4 linked regions of the Homo sapiens genome follow. The protein of the gene in region 4 interacts with the protein of the main gene of each other region in a biochemical or structural test. Each region holds a gene or a part of one and is shown on either strand. Other genes may lie near its edges.

What was found.
Region 1: the proteins of ORC3 (region 4) and MCM10 form a complex in vitro, tested with the Homo sapiens proteins (one large-scale study listed by BioGRID and IntAct).
Region 2: the proteins of ORC3 (region 4) and CDC45 form a complex in vitro, tested with the Homo sapiens proteins (one large-scale study listed by BioGRID and IntAct).
Region 3: the proteins of ORC3 (region 4) and CCNE2 form a complex in vitro, tested with the Homo sapiens proteins (one large-scale study listed by BioGRID and IntAct).

What each region holds. Positions count from the first base shown.
Region 1 is NC_000010.11:13,163,566-13,169,045, reverse strand, and holds part of MCM10 (protein MCM10 homolog), read right to left. Parts: intron 4,919-5,480; 5' UTR 4,844-4,918; coding exon 4,837-4,843; intron 1-4,836. UniProt on the Homo sapiens protein: Acts as a replication initiation factor that brings together the MCM2-7 helicase and the DNA polymerase alpha/primase complex in order to initiate DNA replication. Additionally, plays a role in preventing DNA damage during replication.
Region 2 is NC_000022.11:19,482,920-19,488,399, reverse strand, and holds part of CDC45 (cell division control protein 45 homolog), read right to left. Parts: intron 4,539-5,480; coding exon 4,395-4,538; intron 1-4,394. UniProt on the Homo sapiens protein: Required for initiation of chromosomal DNA replication. Core component of CDC45-MCM-GINS (CMG) helicase, the molecular machine that unwinds template DNA during replication, and around which the replisome is built.
Region 3 is NC_000008.11:94,891,154-94,897,251, reverse strand, and holds the start of CCNE2 (G1/S-specific cyclin-E2), read left to right. Parts: upstream 1-2,050; 5' UTR 2,051-2,075; intron 2,076-3,004; 5' UTR 3,005-3,030; coding exon 3,031-3,044; intron 3,045-3,132; coding exon 3,133-3,229; intron 3,230-3,307; coding exon 3,308-3,361; intron 3,362-4,282; coding exon 4,283-4,434; intron 4,435-6,098. UniProt on the Homo sapiens protein: Essential for the control of the cell cycle at the late G1 and early S phase.
Region 4 is NC_000006.12:87,606,168-87,611,647, reverse strand, and holds part of ORC3 (origin recognition complex subunit 3), read right to left. Parts: intron 3,976-5,480; coding exon 3,824-3,975; intron 2,553-3,823; coding exon 2,419-2,552; intron 1-2,418. UniProt on the Homo sapiens protein: Component of the origin recognition complex (ORC) that binds origins of replication. DNA-binding is ATP-dependent. The specific DNA sequences that define origins of replication have not been identified yet.

The sequences.
Region 1 (5,480 bases), on a different chromosome or scaffold from region 4:
CCATGTTGAACACGCCTGGCCCCCAGGGAGCCTTTTCCTATTGGCACAGCTGCAGGTATTCATCCGTGCAAATTACTAGCTTGCTTTTCTATGTCCGCTTGATTTTTCTGGCTGGCCTTGTTAGAAATTACTTGGGGGCTGCTTTTTGCTAAAAGGGAAATTCTGCTGAGGACTCTGTTGCCCTTACTATCTCCCTAAATAATTGCTATCATCTGTATCACTCTCACTAGAGCTGTACACAAGGGCCACTTCTCCCCACCACCTCATCAATATCTGATGTGTCACTTAAATATTTTTTTGTCAATCTGATGGACGATTTAAAAAGGCATCTCACTGTTTTGATTTGCATTTCTTGGATTACTGGTGAGGTTAAGAATTGTTTGTTTATTTGCCAATCGGATTTCTTCTTTCTTGATTTATCTATTTTCTTTGCTCTTTTTTCCCCCCTATTTGGGCACTATTTGTTTATAAAATCAGAGGTATTCAATGGAAAAATATTAAGGATATCTGACCTACTCTCCTTGTCTGAAATTCAGGGGCTAGAGTATGAGAGGGTGAGGGGCTTGTTCAGGATCACATGGAGAAACAGATCAGTTCAGGAGCTGGGTTAATAAGGAATCTCTAGATCAGCAAACCAATATCCTTTCCACCACTCTACACTCCCTTACCAGAAGGAAAAAGCCAGTAGCCAAACTTCAGGCCTAGAATCTGATGATGGGGCCTAATGCTCAGTCAGAGGTTGTATAAGGATTAGCTTGAGTTGCTTAGTCCACAAAGACTCCAAGGCTGCACAGTGCAAGAGAGAAGAGGCCAGGCAGCCCCCTGTGCTCTGAGAATGTCACATGCCTGCAAGGAAGCAAAGAGGCCTCCACCATCTCTTGTTCCCGTCTGCCAAAGAGGGCACACCCCGGGAAGAGGCTCTGGCTCACACCACTGGGGGCCACAGGTGGAAAATGCTGCCTGGGGACCCCATACTATTCACTTTGAACCCTTCACAAGAGAACGAGGGCTAATCCCATGGTGCCTCACAACCCCGTTTACCTCAGTCACCACCAAAAATCATGTCTTCTCTGTATTACGCTGACTCAATCTCCCAGCCTCTTTGTTCTCAAACCCCTGGGATGTGAAATCTACTATCAGCACGTTTCTCGGATCCCCAGTGGCTCTTACAACAGAAATCTGGCTACCCCTGGAAGCCTCTTGAATGGAAAGCATTTAATTGTTCACACCTCACATGGCAATGTCTAGAATAGTGTTCGGCACGTATTAGGCATGCAACAAATACTTGTTGATCAACTTCAGGTTCCTGATGTCTTCTTTATCACTGTCACTTTGGAATGATTCAGTCTTTTTCCAGATCACAGCTCTCTGAAGTTCAAGACACCAGACGCTGGCATCAAGAACCCCTCATGGCACTGTCATGTGCTGATCATCATATGTGTATCATGCATGCCCCCCCCGGTCCTCCCCTCCATCTCTACTGTTATCACCCTCCTGGGGCACTTCAACCTCCGCAAGGATGATCCAGCCAACATCTTGGTCGCTGGGTTTCTCATCCACTCCCCATCTTAGCTACCCACTCCCATAGTAACTCCAACTCATCACAGCAAAGCACAACTGACCTCTGAACGTCCCTCTGTGATCCAACCTCCCATCCTTTCAGCCCGCTCACTCTAGTATTCACATCCAGCAGCTCTTCAGCTTCATCCACATGTCTAACCCATCAGCCTACCTACAATGTGTTTCCTGTCCATCACCCCCTGCCCCTAATGCCCTCCCTGTGGATCCATGTTCAACACCATCATCACTCACTGCCTTCTAAAGACTCAGCTCCCTGGCTGGTGAATGGTCCTGGAGAAAGACTCGCTACCATGCTGACTGGTCTTTTTTGTTTGTTTATTTATTTATTTATTTTTCAAGACAGGGTCACACAGGCTGGAGTGCAGTGTTGCAATCTTAGCTCACTATAGCCTCAAACTCCTGGGCTCAAGCGATCCTCTTGCCTTAGCCTCCCAAGCAGCAGGGACTAGAGGTGCACACCACCATGCCCAGCTTATTAAATATTTTTTTGTAGAAATGGGGTCTTGCCATGTTGCCCAGTCTCGTCTTGAACTCCTGGCCTCAAGCGATGCTCCTGCCTTGGCTTCCTAAAGTGCTGGGACTACAGGTATGATCAACAAGACCCTGCCTCAGTCTAACTTTAAATTTTTGCACACCCATAACAAACAAGCATTCAGCACTGCTTAAAGATTCCCACACTTCCTCAATTCATTCGCTTTCCCAGGCTCTGACCACTTCACACTGTCTCTCCTCAAACCTCCTATGCCCACTCCCCACTCTTTACTCTTAGCTGATGATATATATATATATATATATATATATATGTATGTATGTATTTTTTTTTTTTTTTGAGACAGAGTTTTGCTCTTGTTGCCCAGGCTGGAGTGCAATGGCACGATCTCGGCTCACTGCAACCTTCACCTCCCAGGTTCAAGTGATTCTCCTGCCTCAGCCTCCCGAGTAGCTGGGATTACAGGCATGTGCCACCACGCCCAGCTAATTTTGTATTTTCAGTAGAGATGGGGTTTCTCCATGTTGGTCAGGCTGGTCTCGAACTCCTGACCTCAGGTGATCCACCTGCCTTGGCCTTTCAACGTGCTGGGATTACAGGCGTGAGCCACAGCGCCCAGCCCTTGGCTTATATTTTACAGAAAAAATAGATGTAATCAGACTTCCTCATCCTTCACTCCCAACTCTGAACGTATCTTCTCTGCTTTCCCTCCTGGGACTAAGTATCTAGTGCTATTCACAGCCAATTCTTCCACTTACATTCTTACATTGGGTCCCACTTCTCAGCTTCTCAAAGACTTCATTCTACAATTACCACCTCTCTGGCTCCTGAATCCCCAGTTTCTCCCTCTCCTCTGAAGCACTCCTGTCAGCATACAAAGACATAGCAGTGTCTCCCATCTACTAACTACCCGTTTATTGTTTTGTTATCTTTCTCCCTCCACTAAAATATAAGCAGGAACATTGTTCAACAGTATATCCCAAGTACCATACAGTCTCCGATTTCCTCTACACCGGCCAAATTGTGAACCCATGCCAATCAAATGAGATTTTCTTACTAAATATTATGATTTCTTTTTCCTCTTTTTTTTTTTTTTTTTCAGATGGAGTCTTGCTCTGTCACCCAGGCTGGAGGTGCAGTAGTGGGATCTCGATGCAATGCAACCTCTGCCTCCCAGATTCAAGTGATCCTCCAGCCTCAGCCTCCTGAGTAGCTGGGATTACAGTCACATGCCACCACACCAGGTTAATTTTTGTAGTTTTAGTAGAAATGGGGTTTCACTATGTTAGCCGGGCTGGCCTCGAACTCCTGACCTCAGGTGATCCACCCACCTTGGCCTCCCAAAGTGCTGGGATTACAGGCATGAGCCACCGCACCCAGCCTAAACATTATGATTTCTTCTTTCTTGACCTATACTGTTTCCAGATAGATACTATGATTTCTTAGAGAACAGGTATCCATTCACCTCTTATTTTCATGTCAATCTGATAGCAAAAAGTGATGCTTTGTATTATATAACCTGCCCTGTAGGCAATTTGCCAATTTTAAGAAACAGGAAACTACCATGATAGCATCAGGCAATGAGTTTCACATAAGGAATAACCCCTTATCTGAGGGTTTATTTTCTGTGGTTTTGATTTTCCATGGTCACTGTGGTTGAGGACAGTACAATGGATATTTTGAGAGTGCAATAGATACTTTAGAGAGAGACCACATTCACATAACTTTTATTACAGTATATTGTCATAATTGTTCCATTTTATTATTGTTGTTCATCTCTCACTGTGCCTAATTCATAAATTATACTTTATCACACGTATGTATGTACAGGAAAAAACACAGCATGCCTAGGGTTTGGTACCATCCTGGGTTTCAGGCATCTGCTGGGAGTGTGGAAACACATCTCTCAGGGACAACGGGGGTCCACTGTGCATCACAGTGTGAGGAATTTCAAGTTTTGTTTTAAAGGGCAAAGTGTAATATGTTTGAATTTTTTAAAAAAACCCAGTTTCAGATTATGAGTTCAATTATGCAACTAGATCTCTTCACAACCAGCACAATCATTTTAATTTTTTAAAAATAGAAATGAGGTCTCACTCTATTGCCCAGGCTGGTCTTGAACTCTTGGGCTCAAGCAATCCTCCCACCCCGGCCTCCCAAAGTGTTGAGATCACAGGCGTGAGCCACTGCGTCCAGCCCAGCACAATCATTTTAGGTGATCGCTAATTAGTGCAACATCTCTTTTCTAGGTAAACATTTTGTACACATCCTTGCAAAATGAACAAAATTAGAAAGGATGATATTAATAAAAACTTAAGTCAGAGCTAGACTAATATCGCTTCAGCAGATTTCATTATCAAATGTAAACTCTGAAGTCAGACTGCCTGGTTCAAAGCCCTGCTATGCCAGCTTGAACTGTGACAAGTTACTAAACATCCCTGTTTTTCTGCCTATAAAATACGTTTGCCTGAGGACTGAATCAGTTAATTTCCACAAGGATCTTGGAGCAGTGCCTGGCCCACTGTACACCTACCAGCTATTGTAATTATGAAAGACAATCTCTGTTGCCAGAAGAAATCTCCCCTGATAAAAGCAAGTAACATTCAGTGACCTCTGTGAGATGTGAGATTGCTTCAGAACCACTAAGACAATACCTGAGGGCTGGGGAGCATTTTCACCATTTTACAGGTAGAATAAATAACAAGTCCATGGACAAAAGGTTAGTTTTCCTTGAAACAGAGTAACAGAAAACTGCCAGGTCTTACCATCCATGCTGTCAAGAGGACAGTTGTGACAGGAAACTTCGAAGGAGGCTCAGATGCCCAGATGAGCAATGTAGAATCTTGGCTGTGTGAAAGCAATATTAGAAATGTCACTTTCAATTCTTCTCTTTCTCTCACAACACACATCCAACAAACCCAGAATCCTACCACTCCTATGGGCTCTAACCTCAGAATTCATCCAGAATCTGACCATTTCTCACCTCCTCTCTCCACACCGCCAATGCCATCTCCTTCCTTGGATGTAGCAGCTCACTTTTACTTGTGTTTAAGGTTACAGAAAGTTATTGAGCTGCAGAGCAGTTTGTAAATCACACTAGATTACGTGGATGAGATAAATTATGAGGAAGAACTATTGGGGTTGGCTAGGTACAGTGGCTCAACGCCTGTAATACCAGCACTTTGGGAAGCTAAGGTGGGCGCATCACTTGAGGCCAGAAGTTTGAGACCAGCCTGGTCACATAGCAAGACCTTGTCTTTTTTAAAAATTACACACACACACACACAAATTATTGGGGTCGATCTACATTAGGCTATTCTTTCATTTTATTCACTGTAATACACCTGACATCTGCGTTATCCACGACAGCTTACTGTATGATTCTACTTAGGTGGAGCCTTAGTGACAA
Region 2 (5,480 bases), on a different chromosome or scaffold from region 4:
CAGATGTCTGAGCCATGCTTCCAGTTCTTAGCCATTGAGTCCCCACCTGAGGGCCCAGATATCACAGATCAAAAAGATGTCATCCTCACTGGGCTCTGCCCAAATTCCTAACCTACAGAATCCATGAGCATAAGGAAAAGGTTGTTTTAAGCTGCTAGGTTCTGGAGTAATTTGTTAAACATCAGTAGGAACCAAAACAATTAAGTCTAGTTATTCTCCTTATTTTACAATGGCACACAGAGGTTAAGTCACTTGCCTACAGTCACAAAGCTGTTATAGCAGATACAAAATTTGAAACCCGTGACCTGAGCCACGATATTATAGCACCTGTAGATTAAGTATAATTATGGTTATTTTTATAGCGGACTCTCATCTTTGCTGGGGTCCAGCTCTAACATCCAACCTTTAAAAGACAAGTAAAAATGATTCTCGACCCCATGTCTCCTCTTTTCTTTACAGCAGAACTCTTTTTTTTTTTTTTTTTTTTTTGAGACGGAGTCTTGCTCTGTTGCCCAGGCTGGAGTGCAGTGGTGGATCTCAGCTCACTGCAGGCTCTGCTTCCTGGATTCACACCATCCTCCTGCCTCAGCCTTCTGAGTAGCTGGGACTACAGGCTCCTGCCACCATGCCCGGGAAATTTTTTGTATTTTTAGTAGAGATGGGGTTTCACCGTGTTAGCAGGATGGTCTCAATCTCCTGACCTCGTGATCCACCCACCTCGGCCTCCCAAAGTGCTGGGATTACAGGCGTGAGCCACCACGCCCGGCCTATAGCAGAACTCCTTAAAACAATTATTTATAACCTATTGTCTCTAAACCTCTTTGAATGTGCACCCTTATTAATAAAAATATTTCATTCTTTTCTTTTTAAGAGATGAGGTCCTGCTCTGTTGCCCAGGCTGGAGTGCAGTGATGTGATCATGGATCACTGCAGCCTCAACCAACCTCCTGGTCTCAAGGCATCCTCCCACTCTAGCCTCCCAAGTAGCCGGGCCTATGTGACCATGCTACCATGCCTGGCTAATTTTTATTTTATTTTTCTGTAGAGACAGTGTCTTGCTATGTTGTCCAGTCTGGTATAAATATTTCTTTTTTTTTTTTTTTTTTTGAGACAAGAGTATTGCTCTGTCGCCCAGGCTGGAGTGCAGTGGCGTGATCTTGGCCCACTACAACCTCCGCCTCCCAGGTTCAAGCAATTCTCCTGCCTCAGCCTCTCGAGTAGCTGGGATTACCGGCATCTGCCATTGCTCCTGGCTAATTTTTGTATTTAGTAGAGACAGGGTTTCTCCATGTTGGTCAGGCTGGTCTCAAACTCCTGACCTCAGGTGATTCACCCGCCTTGGCCTCCCAAAGTGTTGGGATTACAGGCTTGAGCCACCACACCAGGCTGGTAAAAATATTTCTAAGAATATACCTCTAAAAAGCAGCCGGGCACGGTGGCTCACGCCTGTAATCCCAGCACTTTGGGAGGCCAAGGTGGGAGGATCATGAGGTCAGGAGATCGAGACCATCCTGGCTAACACGGTGAAACCCCGTCTCTACTAAAAATATAAAAAATTAGCTGGGCGTGGTGGCAGGCACCTGTAGTCCCAGCTACTTGGGAGTCTGAGGCAGGAGAATGGCATGAACCCAGGAGCTTGCAGTGAGCCGAGATCGTACCACTGCACTCCAGCCTGGGCGACAGAGCGAGACTCCGTCTCAAAAAAATATATATATACCTCTAATATACACATACTTAGTTATAAATCATGCACAGGTTTTAATTATATAAAAAGTATTCTTCTCAAGAATGCTTAATGTTATTAAAATCAACGCTCTAGACCTAATTTACAGATCATAGAAAATGCAGGGATAGAGAAGCAAGTTAAAGTACTCCATGAAGAAACAAGTAGTAGTAAATATTAGAAAAGAGAACTGGCCTTCAATGTCATTAAAAACAAAAGAAAAAAAAGAGGTAAGGTATGGTTCTAGGTTAAGACAGTAAAGAGGAATAGCTAAATGTCTTAATCTTGATTGGAGAATAGTTCAGAAATAAAAATAGCTGCAAAATATATTTTGAGGACAATTAAAGAGACCTGAATATGGGCTGAATATTACATGATATTAGGATATTATTAATTTCTTATGTATGACAATGGCATTGTGTTTATGGGGAAGAATGTCCTTATTCTTAGGAGCTGCTTATGAAAGAATGTGTAGAATATCATGGTTTCTGGCTGGCTGTGGCAGTGCATGCCTGTAATCCTAGCTACTTGGGAGGCTGAGGCAGGCGAATCGCTTGAACCCAGAAGACAGAGGTTGAAGGGAGCCGAGATCGTGCCACTGCACCCCAGCCTCAGTGACAGAGTGAGACTCCATCTCAAGAAAAAACAAAATAAAAAATAAAAAAGAATATCAGTTTCTGCAATCTATTCTCAAATAATACAGAAAAAAGAATACACAGAAAGAAAGCAAATGTGGCAAATGTGAAAAACTGTTTTTGTTTTTTTTGAGACAGGTTCTCTTCATGTTGCCCAGGCTGTTCTCAAATTCCTGGGCTTCATCAATCCTCCTGCCTTGGCCTCCCAAGTAGCTGAGACCACCTACAGTCATGATCCACTGTTGACTCTAGATTGAAGGTACATGGATATTCACTGTACTATCCTTTCAACCACTGTATACATTTCAAAAAATTTCAAAATAAAAAGTTGGTGGGAAATTATGCCTATTATAATCCATGAATATTATGTTAAACATTTACAAACACAAATTCCAAATTGATGTGTTAAGTATGTAAAAGGAAACGCTGATTATTTTCCTGTATCTCATCAAGACAACCTACCTTCTCTTTATTGCCAAACCCACTGGTCTGTTCTCATTTGCCTGTTCCTTTGGCACTGCTGGCCAAGCCTTCCTTGAAACTTTCCTTCCCACCTCAGAGCTGCAGTGTCTATGGATGCTCTGCCCAGGAATCCTCTTGGCTCCATCCCCTGCTAACTCATGTTTGATACCTGAAAGCTTTCCCTAATTGTGCTCATTTACATGATCAGTATCTGTCTCCCCCAATGGAAAGCTTTGCAAAGGCAGGACTTTGCTCTCATACCCGCACCCCAGGGCCTAACTGGTACCTGGCACATAGTAAGTGCTTAAAAAATATTTGTTTATTAGTCAGAGTGGAAAATTCCAAGACTTATCTGTAGAACATGAATGTTTCCCGGGAAATCCCATTGGATACTGACATTTGGGAACCAATGAAATGCAGCTCATCGATAGTTAAAAGAATGCTATATAAAAAAAAATTCAGAGAACAAAAAGGACCCCTCACAAACCAAAGATTAGAAGATAAAGACCAAGCTGAGTGTAGTGGCATGTGCTTAGTCTCAGCTACTTGGGAGGCTGAAGTGGGAAGATCGAGTGAGCCCGAAGTTTGAGGCCAGCCTGGGAAACAGAGAGAGACCCCGTCTGGGGAAAAAACAAAAAAAAAACAAAAAACAAAAAGTCTTCCAAAAAATAGAACAAAGAGCTGGGCAAGAGGTAAGAAAATATAACAGTGGGTCCAAGAGGTTCCCTATGAGACACCCAAACCTAGTGAAAGGGGTGACAAAGGTGAGAAAGAAGAGAGAAGCATGCCTCAGTTTGAAGGGCATTGCCCCTTCCCCAAATGAAGAATGTCTTGAACATCTCAAATATGGCTCAAAAAGGCTTCCCAAAAGCACATTACCGGGAAATGTCAGGCTGAGGATGAAGGGAAGACCCTAGAACATTACGGGGGCAAATTCTAGGTCACACACCAAGATCAGGAGCCAGAGGCCATCTTCAAAAGCATCACGTGGCCCTCCGTGCTATGGGAACAACCACCTTCTGCCTGTCATTTTACATCTTGCAGAAGCCGTAGTGTTGGGTAGGCCACTGGGCCCAGCCCCAGATCACTAAGCAGCTCAGACCCAAGGTCCACATGGTGAAAACCACTGGTATCTTCACATACAAGATACCTCCCCTGCAGTAATTGTCTGGGACTGGGCCTGGCCAAGGGATGCAGACCCACATTGCTCCTCTGCAGTGACTGCATAGTAAGTGATGCTAGAAGACAGTAGAAAAGGAAGGGGTGGGGGTTACACTATTTATTGCTTCTCTACATTATTTTTTTGCTATCTAGCCGCAGAGCTGAGCTGTCCTAAATTTCATTTCTTCTGACAGGATCCTATTGGACAGATAAGCCACTATTTAGGGAAGTCCAGTAACCTGCCTGAGGCCACATAACCAGGGGACAGCAGAGCCCAGGGTCAGCATCCATGCCTGCTAACTTTTCCACTTCCCACTGCCCTCAGTACACCTTGGCCTGGCAGGCTTCAGGATGACCTCCGACCTCTGGGAGTGCAAGTTCCTCTGGGATAGCTGTGAGAGACCCAAACTCACCTCTTCTAACCGTGTGCGCTTCTCAGAAGGCTCTGACCCATCACTGTCATTTCCTGAATGCTCTTCATCCTCCTCTTCATCCCTGAAGATGTCTTCATAGGCGGGAACTTCAAGGTCATCATCTTGTTTAATGAGTAATTTGATCTAAGTTCAAAACAAAAAGGAATTAAGCCTCTCCTCTTTCTACGGAAAACTATACAATATGTTCTTCTGCAGAATCTTATCATTTCCTAATAAGCTGACTCAGTTTCCTGTTCATACAAATAGCTACCTATTTAACAAGAGTTCCAGGCTTCTAAGGAATTTTCTTGTTTTCATTACCAGTGAGGCACCAGAGTTACACCATACGTGGTATGCAGAAATTATGAAAATCTGAAAACAGTTCTTTGAGAACCATCTAGTCTACTTAAGTCTGGAAACACAGCATCCTCTTACGTCATACACCAATAAAATGAACGCCCCACAACTTGGCCTCTGTCTGATATAGGACATGAAGATGTGTAACCCCTAAGTGGTGACTAAAACTCCTGTCTGAAAGCAACTCCAGGCTGATTTTTCTTTTCTTTTTTTTTTGGAGACGGAGTCTCGCTCTGTCGCCCAAGCTGGAGTGCAGTGGCACGATCTCGGCTCACTGCAAGCTCTGCCTCCTGGGTTCATGCCATTCTCCTGCCTCAGCCTCCTGAGTAGCTGGGACTACAAGCGTCCAACACTATGCCTGGCTAATTTTTTGTATTTTTAGTAGAGACGGGGTTTCACCATGTTAGCCAGGATGGTCTCAATCTTCTGACCTCGTAATCCGCCTGCCTCGGCCTCCCAAAGTGCTGGGATTACAGGCGTGAGCCACCGCGCCCAGCCAAGACTCCATTTCAACAAAAATAAAAACAAATATTTGCTGGGCGTGGTGGCATGTGCCTGTAGTCCCACCTACTAAGGAGGCTGAGGCAGGAAGGGTCAGTTGAACCCAGGAGTTTGAGGCTGCAGTGAGCCATGATTGTGCCAGTGTACTCCAGACTCTCCTTAAAAAAAAAAAAAAAAGATGACAAAGACCAAGTTCTTGTGTTCAGGCTGTTCCCAGTCCCACAGGGT
Region 3 (6,098 bases), on a different chromosome or scaffold from region 4:
TTTAAAATCAATTTACTAGTTAACTCAGTACTGAGCATACATTCATCATTCAAAGATGATTCCCACAAACGTTACTCGACATACTGGTTTTCAGTATATTTTATCAAATTCAACCACGAGGGCCACCAGTTCTGCTTACGATCAGGTGACCCTTGTTGGGAGACCCCTGACCCCTTTTCTTGACATCATGCTGTTAGACCTTTAAGCTAGCTATACCGCTAACTGCGTTTTGAGTGACTGCAAAAGGGAGGCAACTTCTGCCCCGCCGAGAGCCATCCTAAGCGTTAGAAATGGCAGAAAGTTTCTTGGGACTGACAAGGCATGGGCTTCTCCTGATGCTGTCACCTTGGGCAAAGCTCCTACAGGTAAATTAGGGAGAGAATTATTTTGCCGGCGTCACGAGACGAAGAATCGAAAAAGTGTGAAAAAGGACTTCGCCCGCCCCAAAGCGCCCATCCGGCGGCGGCTATTTCCCGGGCCTCAAGCGCGCTCGAGCGGCGCAGCACAAAAGGCCGGGCGGGAGCGGGGGTCGCCGGGCGCCGCCTCCCGGTGCATCTCGGGAAGGGCTCCCGCCCGCGAGGCTCCGTCTCCCCGGCGCGGCCCGCTCGCCGTCCGGCTCGCTCAGGGCCTGGGCAGACGCGGCCCGCCCGAGCTACCGCGGGTTCCGAGACGCCTTCGCACTGCTCCTCCACCCGGGGGATCTTTGTTCCCGGAGCTGTTCCCCGCCTCGCTGCTCCCGCCGCAAAACCTGTTTGCGGAATACCCGCCGCAAGTCTGACTTGACGATGTGCAGTTTTGGGGTGCGCCAGTTGTGGGGGCATTCATAGAGGCAGCGAAGGGACCCCTAAGTTTAAACACCCGGGGAAGGATAAAGGAAGAGCGTCGGGCCCCCCTCCTCCCAACAGCGCTCGGGCGCGAACGGCGCCCTCCCGCGCTGCCGGCTCGCGCGGGCTCCGCAGGGCGCGCTGGCGGCGGCGGCGGGGCGGGGCGCGGCAGGCGGGCCCGGGGCCTGCACGTGGTGGCGATCTTTCTTCCCACCCGGCCAGGTCCCCGGGGACCACCGCGCTCAGGGGGAGGAGGAATGCCGTTCCCGGGCCCCGCTCCGGAGAGGGGTTTTACCCTCTGGGATCCCGGAATTGGAGGTGGAGAAGAGAGGAAGCAAGGGAGGGCGCGGCGTGGCGCGAGCGTTTCCTGCGCGGGGACTGCGGGGTGGCAGCTGGAGGCCACTGCAGGGGCAGAGCGGCGGGTTGGGGGAGCGACCGACCCATGGGGAGGGAAACCCGGTAGGGGGAGCAGGGAGCCGGAAAGCAGGGTTGATACATACCTGGGTGGGCGGGCTGGAAATGCCTTCCCTGGGCGCGCCGCGCAAGGCCGGCGGAGCGGGCTCCGGGTGGTCGCGGACCGGGACTGGGGAGAGCAGAGCCGCACTTGGCCAGGCGCGTGGCTGAGTGGTGTTTACATTCTGCAGCCACTCCACGTTGTGCTGCCGCCCGTGCCTCCCATTGGCCAGCTCTTCAGCCAACGCTTTGCTCCTCCCCGAGGGGCGGGCCCTCGGGTCCCCGCGTCGCTCAGGAAAGACCTGGGTTCCCTGAGGCCTTGGCGGGACAGCTAGGGCGCGCCCCTGGACGGTCACTTCCCAGCCACCCTATGGTCGCCCGAGTCGTGTCCCCCTGTTATGCGCCCGGGCTGAGCCGCAGGCTGACACCCCCGAAATCCAGGAGTTGCAGTGGGAGGAAGCAAAAGCAAACTGGCGGGAGATGCGCGAGCCAGGCGGCGGGGAGAACAGCCGCGGAGAAGGAGCCCCTGAGAGTTTCCCTACCGCCGCCGGCCGCGCCGTGGAGCGCGGTGGACGCGGGCAGAAGGCCCGGTAGAGTGGACCCCACGGCCGCTCCGGGTGGCGGGCGCGCACTGAGAGCAGGGCGCGGCGCGCGGGCACGCGGGCGGACGGGCGGGAGAGGGGAGCGCGCTGTCCGGAGGTGTCAGTCTGAGGCGCATGCGTGCGGGGCGGGACCGGCCCGGCCTATATATTGGGTTGGCGCCGGCGCCAGCTGAGCCGAGCGGTAGCTGGTCTGGCGGTGAGGAGTTGCTGCGCGTAGGGGGGATGTGGGAGGAAAGAAAGCCCAGTTGGGCCGATCACTTACCACAGGCGGGAGCCTCAGGGAGGAAAATCGGGAGGGCTGAGAACTAGACGACTGGGGGTCATGGGTTCCCGCGTTCCGTCCCTGTCAGGAACCTTGGCAGGGGACCGGGAAGCGGCTGGGCATGGAGAGCCGCCCCTCATTCTAGGGGCTTCTCTATCCCACCCTCATTTGGGGAGCTATCCCGTGGGAGAGAGGATGGGAGGCCGGGTCCCCTCCATGGGGAGAAAAGTTCCCAGCCAGCCCAGTCTCCCCTTTCTTTAGCTCCTTTTCCTGCCCTCCCCCACGCCCTCCGCTTCCCATCTGGAGTTGGGGTCCCGGCGCCCCTCCGAGCGGCGGTAGGGCGGCAGGGCCGGGAAGGAGGGAAAGGAGACTGGAGGCCGTGACACCAGTCTTGGTTCCTCCGCCCCCTGCTTCCCCGCCACCGCCGCTCTCCAAATTGGCGCGGAACCGGCTTCTCCACAGCATTTCGCCTCCACAACCCCCTCTCCCCGCTGGTCCAGGAGGGAGGCGGGACGTGGGGGCGCTGCCCAAGCCCCACTCCCGGTGTACGGGGGAGAGGGTGGAGGACCCAGAAAAACCCGTTTGAGGAAGATGTGCCTCCCTGCGCGTTCAAGGTGTCAGGAGTGCTTGGTAAATTTTTGGACACTCGCGTTCCAGCTGTACATTCAGTTGAGGAAATGCAGGCTTGTATCCAAAATGAATTACCATGAGCTAGCTAACATAGCACAGAAGATGGCAGGGTCACAGGGCCCAGGCCCCCTTCGGAGGGACTGAGCTTTCACCTGCGAATCAGCGTCTTACTGGCACTTGGAGAATGTGAATGACAATGTACTTGACTGCGGCTTTTCCTCTCCCCCCTTCAGAGGTTTTATACACCTGAAAGAAGAGAATGTCAAGACGAAGGTAACATTATCTGTCTTAGAGACATGTTTCAAATTAGTTGCTGCCTTTAACTTACTAATTACACTTCCTTTTTAAAAATTCACTACAGTAGCCGTTTACAAGCTAAGCAGCAGCCCCAGCCCAGCCAGACGGAATCCCCCCAAGAAGCCCAGATAATCCAGGCCAAGAAGAGGAAAACTACCCAGGTGATTTAAGGAGAAAGAGGGAGGAACGAAATTCCATGCTGGGACTTTAGTTTACCAATGGTCTTTTCTATTTTCCAGGATGTCAAAAAAAGAAGAGAGGAGGTCACCAAGAAACATCAGTATGAAATTAGGGTAATGCAGAACTGGGCTGGGTGGGTTTGGGGGAAAAATGGAGGATAGATGAATAAGAATAGAATTATGTGTTTATTGCTTTGCGATAGATTCCTCTGACACTTTTACTTTTAATGCCCCTAGAGGTCAGCAGGAAGGCGCCTATCTTTGGGTGGTTTCTATGTGCCCGAATCCTACTACAGCTGCAGAATAAGTGCCTTCAAGCAGCTGGTTCCTTTTTGTAAATCCCTCCCTCTTGGAACTGCCTGGTGCACCAGGGCCCGCCTAATCTGTCCAATATACTGCTCTTTGTTCCCTCGCAGACTCTAGTAGACGGTCCTAATAGCTGCTTCTTGGGCATAAATAGGATGTGAGATCACTGACAGCCTGGCACGCAGCCCTTTGGTACCTCTTCTTCCTATGTGTTTTACAGAAAGCAGCACTTTGGAGATAGTGATTGCGTTTGAAACCAGCATTATTGGGAAAAGAATCGTTTAAGTAATCGATTCCATTTTTAAGGTTTTGCTTTCAAATATTCAAAAGTATCAGAGCACACTTTTTTTAAAAAGAGCTTATTTGAAAAAAAAAAAAAAAGGTCCCTGCTACTATTGCTAGATACAGAGAACGATTCTGTGATCTTGAAAGTGATTAGTATTTTAGACTGCAGATGCATTTTGTTATTACTGTCCTTCTTCGACACCTGGTGTCTTCTATTACCAGAATTGCATTTTGTTGTCTAAAACATCCTATTACTCTTTATAAAAATCAATATGAGCTATATGGCTTGTTTATAAAATGTGAATGTCAAATTAGCTATATTGCCATCTATGTTAGCTAAAATTATGATTCTTTAGACATATTAGCTTTCATTTATGAAAGATCCATTACAAAAACTAAGGTTTTCCTTGCACAAATTGATATTTTTCTTTTTTTTTATGACAGAATTGTTGGCCACCTGTATTATCTGGGGGGATCAGTCCTTGCATTATCATTGAAACACCTCACAAAGAAATAGGAACAAGTGATTTCTCCAGATTTACAAATTACAGATTTAAAAATCTTTTTATTAATCCTTCACCTTTGCCTGATTTAAGGTAAGAAAAATTTCAGTAATTTTATTTCAAAGATATAAAGTTGTGCTGATTTAATACATGGCACTATTTTGTCTTTTGCTTTCATAAAGTAGAAAAACGTGTAAAAATTGTTTACTAATATTTAATCATATGTCATTTTATCTGAGAGTAGTGCTGGTTGCAAATGATATGGGTATTTAAAACACTGATTCTATAAAATTATTTTCATTTGCTTGCTGAGTACTATAAAGACTTAACAGGACTGAATTAGTTTTTTGTTAAGATAGAAACATTTTTACATGTACAGCTTTTTCCTTTAAAATTTTTATTCGTGTTTCTTGCAGCTTCAACTCAAAGGAAGCTTTTCCAATTGATGTATCAACCCTATTTATTTCTTACCAAACTTAATAAGGTCTATACTTAATTCTTTTTTCTAGTCCATGAGTGTAACTAAGAGGTACAGCTTATACAAAACATGTACTGTATTAATTTATGATTGGCCTTAATAAGCAATTTAATGGAATCAGACACTTAAACTCACCAATCCCCCTTTCCCTGCATTCTGTCCCACCTTACCCACCCCATAGGTGATCCTGCTGTAGATGATCTATTTAGAGGTGATTGAGACTTCTCTTGACTGTGATCACATGCCTTATGTGTTTAACTTTTTTGTATTGCTCTTGAGAAAACATTTTTTTTCACTTTTAATTGCATTTATTTTAGTGCTGAATTTACTCCTGTGCCATAAGTTTTTGTTTCTTCAGTTTCTTCTGGGATATCTTTTTCTTCTGGGCAACCGCCTCTTCTGGTTTAGGAACAATTTGTTCCTTTTCACTAAAGATCATTTCGATGTGGCAGGGAGAGATCACGTGTGAGTTAATCCGACCATGAGCTCTGTAGGTCCGTTGGCACATCGTAGGTGCTTTGTTCACTTGGAGATGCTCAATGACCAGAGAATCTACATCTAAACTCTTAAGTTCAGCATTACTCTCTGCATTTTTAAGCATGTGCAGCAAAAATTCAGCACTCTTTTTGGGCCACCAACCTTGTGTCCAGTCCCACTGCTTGGCCTGGGTACACCTACCAACTCCACCATTGTAATGTCAGAATGGCACATGCTGTTTCTGTAAAGTGACATTTTAAAAATACTTCATGGTGTTTTTTTTTTTTTTTTTTTTTGGAGACAGAGGTTTGCTGTTGTTGCCCAGGCTGGAGTGCAGTGGCACGATCTCGGCTCACTGCAACCTCCACCTCCTGGGTGCAAGTGATTCTCCTGCCTCAGCCTCCTGAGTAGCTGGGATTACAAGCATGCCACCACGCCCAGCTAATTTTTTGTATTTTTAGTGGAGACGGGGTTTCACCATGTTGGCCAGGCTGGTCTCGAACTCCTGACCTTAAGTGATCCACCCACCTTGGCCTCCCAAAGTGCAGGGATTACAGGTGTGAGCCACTGTGCCGGCCACTTTGTGGTTTTTCATATATGCATACCCTTGATAGCCTGGGCAGTTTCACGAGTGTTCTTACAGTGAACACAAAGATTTGAACCTCTTGATTTGCATGATTTTGTGGGGTTTTCCAGGTAAAGTGAATAGCCAGCTATTTTCACAGATTACTTCAGACCACTTATGGGAAAAGCAACGTGGTTATCTTTTAACAGCAACCTTTGTAAAGTATAAATAAGTGGA
Region 4 (5,480 bases):
ACCATGCCTAATTTTTTAATTTTAGTGGAGATGGGGTTTCACCATATTGGTCAGGCTGGTCTCAAACTCCTGACTTCATGTGATCCACCCACTTCGGCCTCCCAAAGTGCTGGGATTACAGGCGTGAGCCACCATGCCCGGGCCGAAGATTATACAATCTTAAGTGTTAGAAGAGATGTTAGATACCATTCCATTTAATATCTCATTCAAAGTTTGAGCCCTTTCTATAGTCTTCCTCACTTTTGATGGCTAAGGTAGTCATTAAGTCTAAGCTCCAAAAAAAAGTACAGCTTTTCTGTCACTATTTTGTACTATGTACTTTCCAAGCATGCTAAGCAGTTCAGTGTCAGCATTAAGAAAAGTCCTAGGATCTGGGCTGGGTGCAATGGTTCATGCAAGTCCTAGGATCTGGGCTGGGTGCGATGGTTCATGTCTGTAATCCCAGCACGTTGGGAGACTGAGGAGGGCAGATCTCTTGAGGCCAAGAGTTTGAGACCAGCCTGGGCAACACGGCAAAACCCCATCTCTACAAAAAATACAAAAATTAGCCGGGCATGGTGGTGTGTGCCTATAGTCCTAGCTACTTGGGGACCTGAGAAGGGAGGACTGCTTAAGCCCAGGAGGTGGAGGGTGCAGTGAGCCAAGATCATGTCACTGCGCTCTAGCCTGGGTGACAGAGCCAGACCCTGTCTCAAAAAAAAAAAAAAAAAAAAGAAAAGTCCTAATATATAGAACTCTTAGAATCAATGAAGGAAAAAAGATCCTATCAAAGTAGAAATTTAAAGTATATTAGTAGGCCGGGCGCGGTGGCTCACGCCTGTAATCCCAGCACTTTGGGAGGCCGAGGCGGGTGGATCATGAGGTCAGGAGATCGAGACCATCCTGGCTAACAAGGTGAAACCCCGTCTCTACTAAAAATACAAAAAATTAGCCAGGCGCGGTGGCGGGCGCCTGTAGTCCCAGCTACTCGGGAGGCTGAGGCAGGAGAATGGCGTGAACCCGGGAAGCGGAGCTTGCAGTGAGCCGAGATTGCGCCACTGCAGTCCGCAGTCCGACCTGGGCGACAGAGCGAGACTCCGTCTCAAAAAAAATAAAAAATAAAAAAAAATAAAGTATATTAGTAAATTAGCTGGGTGTGGTGGCTCATGTCTGTAATCCTAGCACTTTGGGAGGCCCCAAAGAGCACTAAGGAAGGCAGATCACCTGAGGTCAGGAGTTTGAGACCAGCCTGGCTAATATGGTGAAACCCTGTCTCTACTAAAAATACAAAAATTAGCTAGGCGTGGCAGCGGGCACCTGTAATCCCAGCTACTTGGGAGGCTGAGGCATGAGAACTGCTTGAACCCGGGAGGCGGAGGTGGCAGGGAGTTGAGAAGGCGCCACTGCACTCCAGCCTGGGGGACAGAGCGAGACTCTGTCTCCAAAAATAAAAATAAAAATAAAGTATACTAGTAAATTATTTAACACAATATATAGCTTTAGGCAAATGTAGCTATAACTATTAAAACAAGTTGACATATAGAAGAGGCCAAAATAAATTCCATCCTAAAAAATACACCAGGGAAAATGCATGTCACTGGATTTTAAAATAAGAGTTCATTATTTCAATTCTGAGTCTCACATGATTGCTTTGAAGACGCAATGCAATCGTGAAAATAGTTTCTCACTAGAAGTATTATATAAATGCAAAATAATGTTATTTAGAAGACACTTTTGCTTAGTAAAACTATATGCAACTCAGAGCATCTAAGGATGGATGGGTATCAGAAAATAAGACCTAATAAAAATCTCAACTTAGCCAGGTATGGTGGCTCACTCCTGTAATCCCAGCACTTTGGGAGGCCGAGGCAGGCAGATCACCTGAGGTCAGGAGTTCGAGAACAGCCTGGCCAACATGGTGAAACTCTGTTTCTACTAAAAATACAAAAATTAGCCAGGTGTGGTGGTGGGCACCTGTAATCCCAGCTACTCAGGAGGCTGAGGCAGAATTGCTTGAACCCAGGAGGCGGAGGCTGCAGTGAGCCGAGATCGTACCACTGCACTCCAGCCTGGGCAACAGAACAAAGCTCCATCTCAAAAAAAAAAAAGAAAAAAACAAAAACAACAAACTCAACCTGGAGTAGTTTATCTATTTAATGGGTGAGTAAGAGACAGTCAATCTTGGTGAGAAAAACCATATTTAATACTATCTTACCATGTCAATTTAAAACTGGCTAAATGTGCCTTTGATTCTCATTCTTGGCTCAAAAAGCAAATGGAAAATCTGATAGGAAGTCTTTGAATATTCAATTATAAAGAATTTGAATACTTTGATTTTTATCCAGTTGGTATTAAAATGAAGATTATACTTTTCAAGTTAAAAGTAGTATTTTCTTAAAAAGGGAGTTTTTCATAAAAGCCAGGTAATACACCATCTACCTGCTGATAATTATGAAGTCTTGTAGTACTTTTGTGGCAAAGCTTTCCATATCCTTCAAGATAACGACAACAGGAGGAGACTGCCATTGGCTAGAAGTAGTCCTTTTTTTGCTTAGCATTTTTGGGTCCGTCTTCTTTTAAGCCATTGCAGAAAGAAAGAGTTAAAGGTAAGCCTTACCACTCAAACAATGTTATAATGCCACATGTTGACATATCTCTCTTTAAATTTCACAATAACACTGTTTATTTTTTTTCTACCACACGATAAATAGAAACTCAGGTTACTAGAATCTTGCTGTGTCTGACATGGGAATAATAACCAAGAAGAAAAAGGTTCAGTAAAAATCTATAACTCATATGAAATATTTATATTTTCTGCTAAGGAAATGACAGAAAAAAACATGGAAGAGGAAATTTTCTACAAAATTGATTTTTCTGTTGGTAGAAAGTTATATTCTGCTTTGCTTTATAGTGAGAACTAGTATTTTTAATGAAAAAAATATAATGAATAGTAGTGCTTGCTACTCTGCCACTGTGAAATTTCAAGCCTGAAATGGATACTAGGTATCATCTGGTCCAATCTCAATTTTTAAAAAGATATCTGACATAAACCAAAAGTAGCATTTTATCTGGAAAGTCTAAAATTGTGGAGCAAATCAGGTATTATGGTAAGTATTAGACGTAGTTTAGTCCCTATATAAAGCAAAATGAAACTTCACTTACGATGATTTCAGCAAAAATGTTGATTGGAAAATGTAACCACAGTATTTTTTTTCCCATACTGTCTGGCTACACAGCACCATAACCTAAGACTATGGTTTTATGACGCAATTACCTAGTGTTAACCTAGGTTATTATTTTTCACCAGACTGTCATGGTAGAATGGAACTTCTTTTTACTTATCTGTTTGTCTAACATACTTTACTTAAAGAACACTGATTCCCTAAGAACTCTAAACATAAAACAAATTAGACTTTAGAAAATACATGATTATTCTTCATTGAACTAAGTTGACAGTGGATACTAGCAGCATGGTTCTATTGGACAAAGCAAACATTGAGGAACATAAGAGATAATATACTAAAGTTATAGTTACTGTCACAGAGATGGAACATGCAACAGAAGCAATTCCTGATGCTCTGTTTTTGTCATTAGAGGACATTCTCCAACAAATAATATGTCCTTGTAAAAACCTAAGCACTTACCTGGAATTAGGCTGCATACTAATAAAAGAACATTTTAAAATTCGAGTAGCATTAGAAAAAATAAATACCTACTTTTAAATTAACACCTAGTGCTGCAGAAACATATCCTTGTTAGATCAAAACAGTACTGTCTAATATTATTCCAAGCCACATCAATCATACGTCAATTTCCTGGGAGAAAATCATCAGTTTATATCTACCTGTGTGACAGTCATATACCAACTGGAAAGTGAATCCATTGAATAATGTGTCTTTCTTTGGGTGACGTGAACACTTTCCTCCTCTTTGGATTTTATATCTACACAGCAGTCCATCAACTGTGAGATCAACTTTTGCAAAAAATGTTTCATATCTGTGGAATATAAAAAGTAAGAAAGCTTATCTCTGCCTCTTCTAAAAATAAAACCAAAGCTCTTGAAACTTCTTGCTGAGTGTATTACTTTTTTTTTTGGTAGAATGTGTTTTTTTATACTTACCATCAATACAGCTAATGTAACATTTAACATATTAACTACTGATGCTCATTAGTACCTTCATTAATTCAGACTAAGACTAAACCAAAGCTTATGTATATTATCTTTATTTTTTTTTTTTGAGATGGAGTCTCGCTCTGTTGCCCAGGCTGGAGTACAGTGGCAGGATCTCGGCTCAATACAACCTCTGCCTCCCGGGTTCAAGCAATTCTCCTGCCTCAAGCCTCCCCAGTAGCTGGGATTACAGGCGCGTGCCACCATACCCAGCTAATTTTTGTATTTTTTAGTAGAGACGGGGTTTTGCCATGTTGGCCAGGCTGGTCTCGAACTCCTCACCTCATGATCTGCCTGCCTCAGCCTCCCAAAGTGCTGGGATTACAAGCATCAAACACTGCTCCCAGCCATTTATGTATATTATCTATAATAAAAAGGTCACAGAAGCAAATGTGTAGATATGCAAACTATAAATTTTAGGAATATGTATTTAAATTACATAGGAAAATAAACAGTTTTCAAGTTCCCTAAGAAAAATCAAGTGTCATATGAATTATTTTACTGATTATAAATCTTTCATATAGCCATTTTTAAAGATGCCTTTAAGGGCTTTTACTTAATTTCAATCAGTTTATGAATATGAAAGCAATATAAGCACATAAATCTCTTTTATCAATCTAATCCAAACAAATTTTACCACATTAGGGCCAGGCATGGTGACTCAAGATGTAATCCCAGCACTTTGGGAAGCCAAGGCAGGAGGATTGTTTGAGCCCAGGAGTTCAAGACCAGTCTGGACAACACAGCAAGACCCAATCTCTACAAACAACAACAACAACAAAACCCCACAATGTAGCTGATGTAGCTGAGCGTAATGGCATGCACCTGTAGTCCTAGGTACTGGGGAAGCTGAAGTGGGAGAACTGCTTGAGGCCAGGAGTTCAAGCTGCACTGAGCTATGATCATGCTACTGTAGTACAGCCTAGGCAACAGAGTGAGACCCTGTCTCAAAAGAAAAAAAAAAAAAGCTTTTTAATATATTAGTGTGAACACTCTTTATGATTTCATGGGTTCACATGCTCAGGATTACCTCTGTCAGTGGACTATTTTTCACCATGGTGGCTTTTCAAAGTGGGACAATAAGATGATTTATGGCTGAAACATGAGCCCATGTGGTCTACTCTCTTTTGAGCTGACAAGAGCTCCTCATTCCCCAATTCTCAGCTTTCTGTCCTAAGTCTTTCTACTTATTAAACGTTTCACTGGGTTAAAGAATGCATCTCACAAAATGCCTGGACTGCTACCGGCAGTTAAGCTGATAGGGCAGAAATGGGTCAAGAACAAAGACAGCAAAAGAAGGCAGAGTTCTGTAATAGTCACAATTACTCTG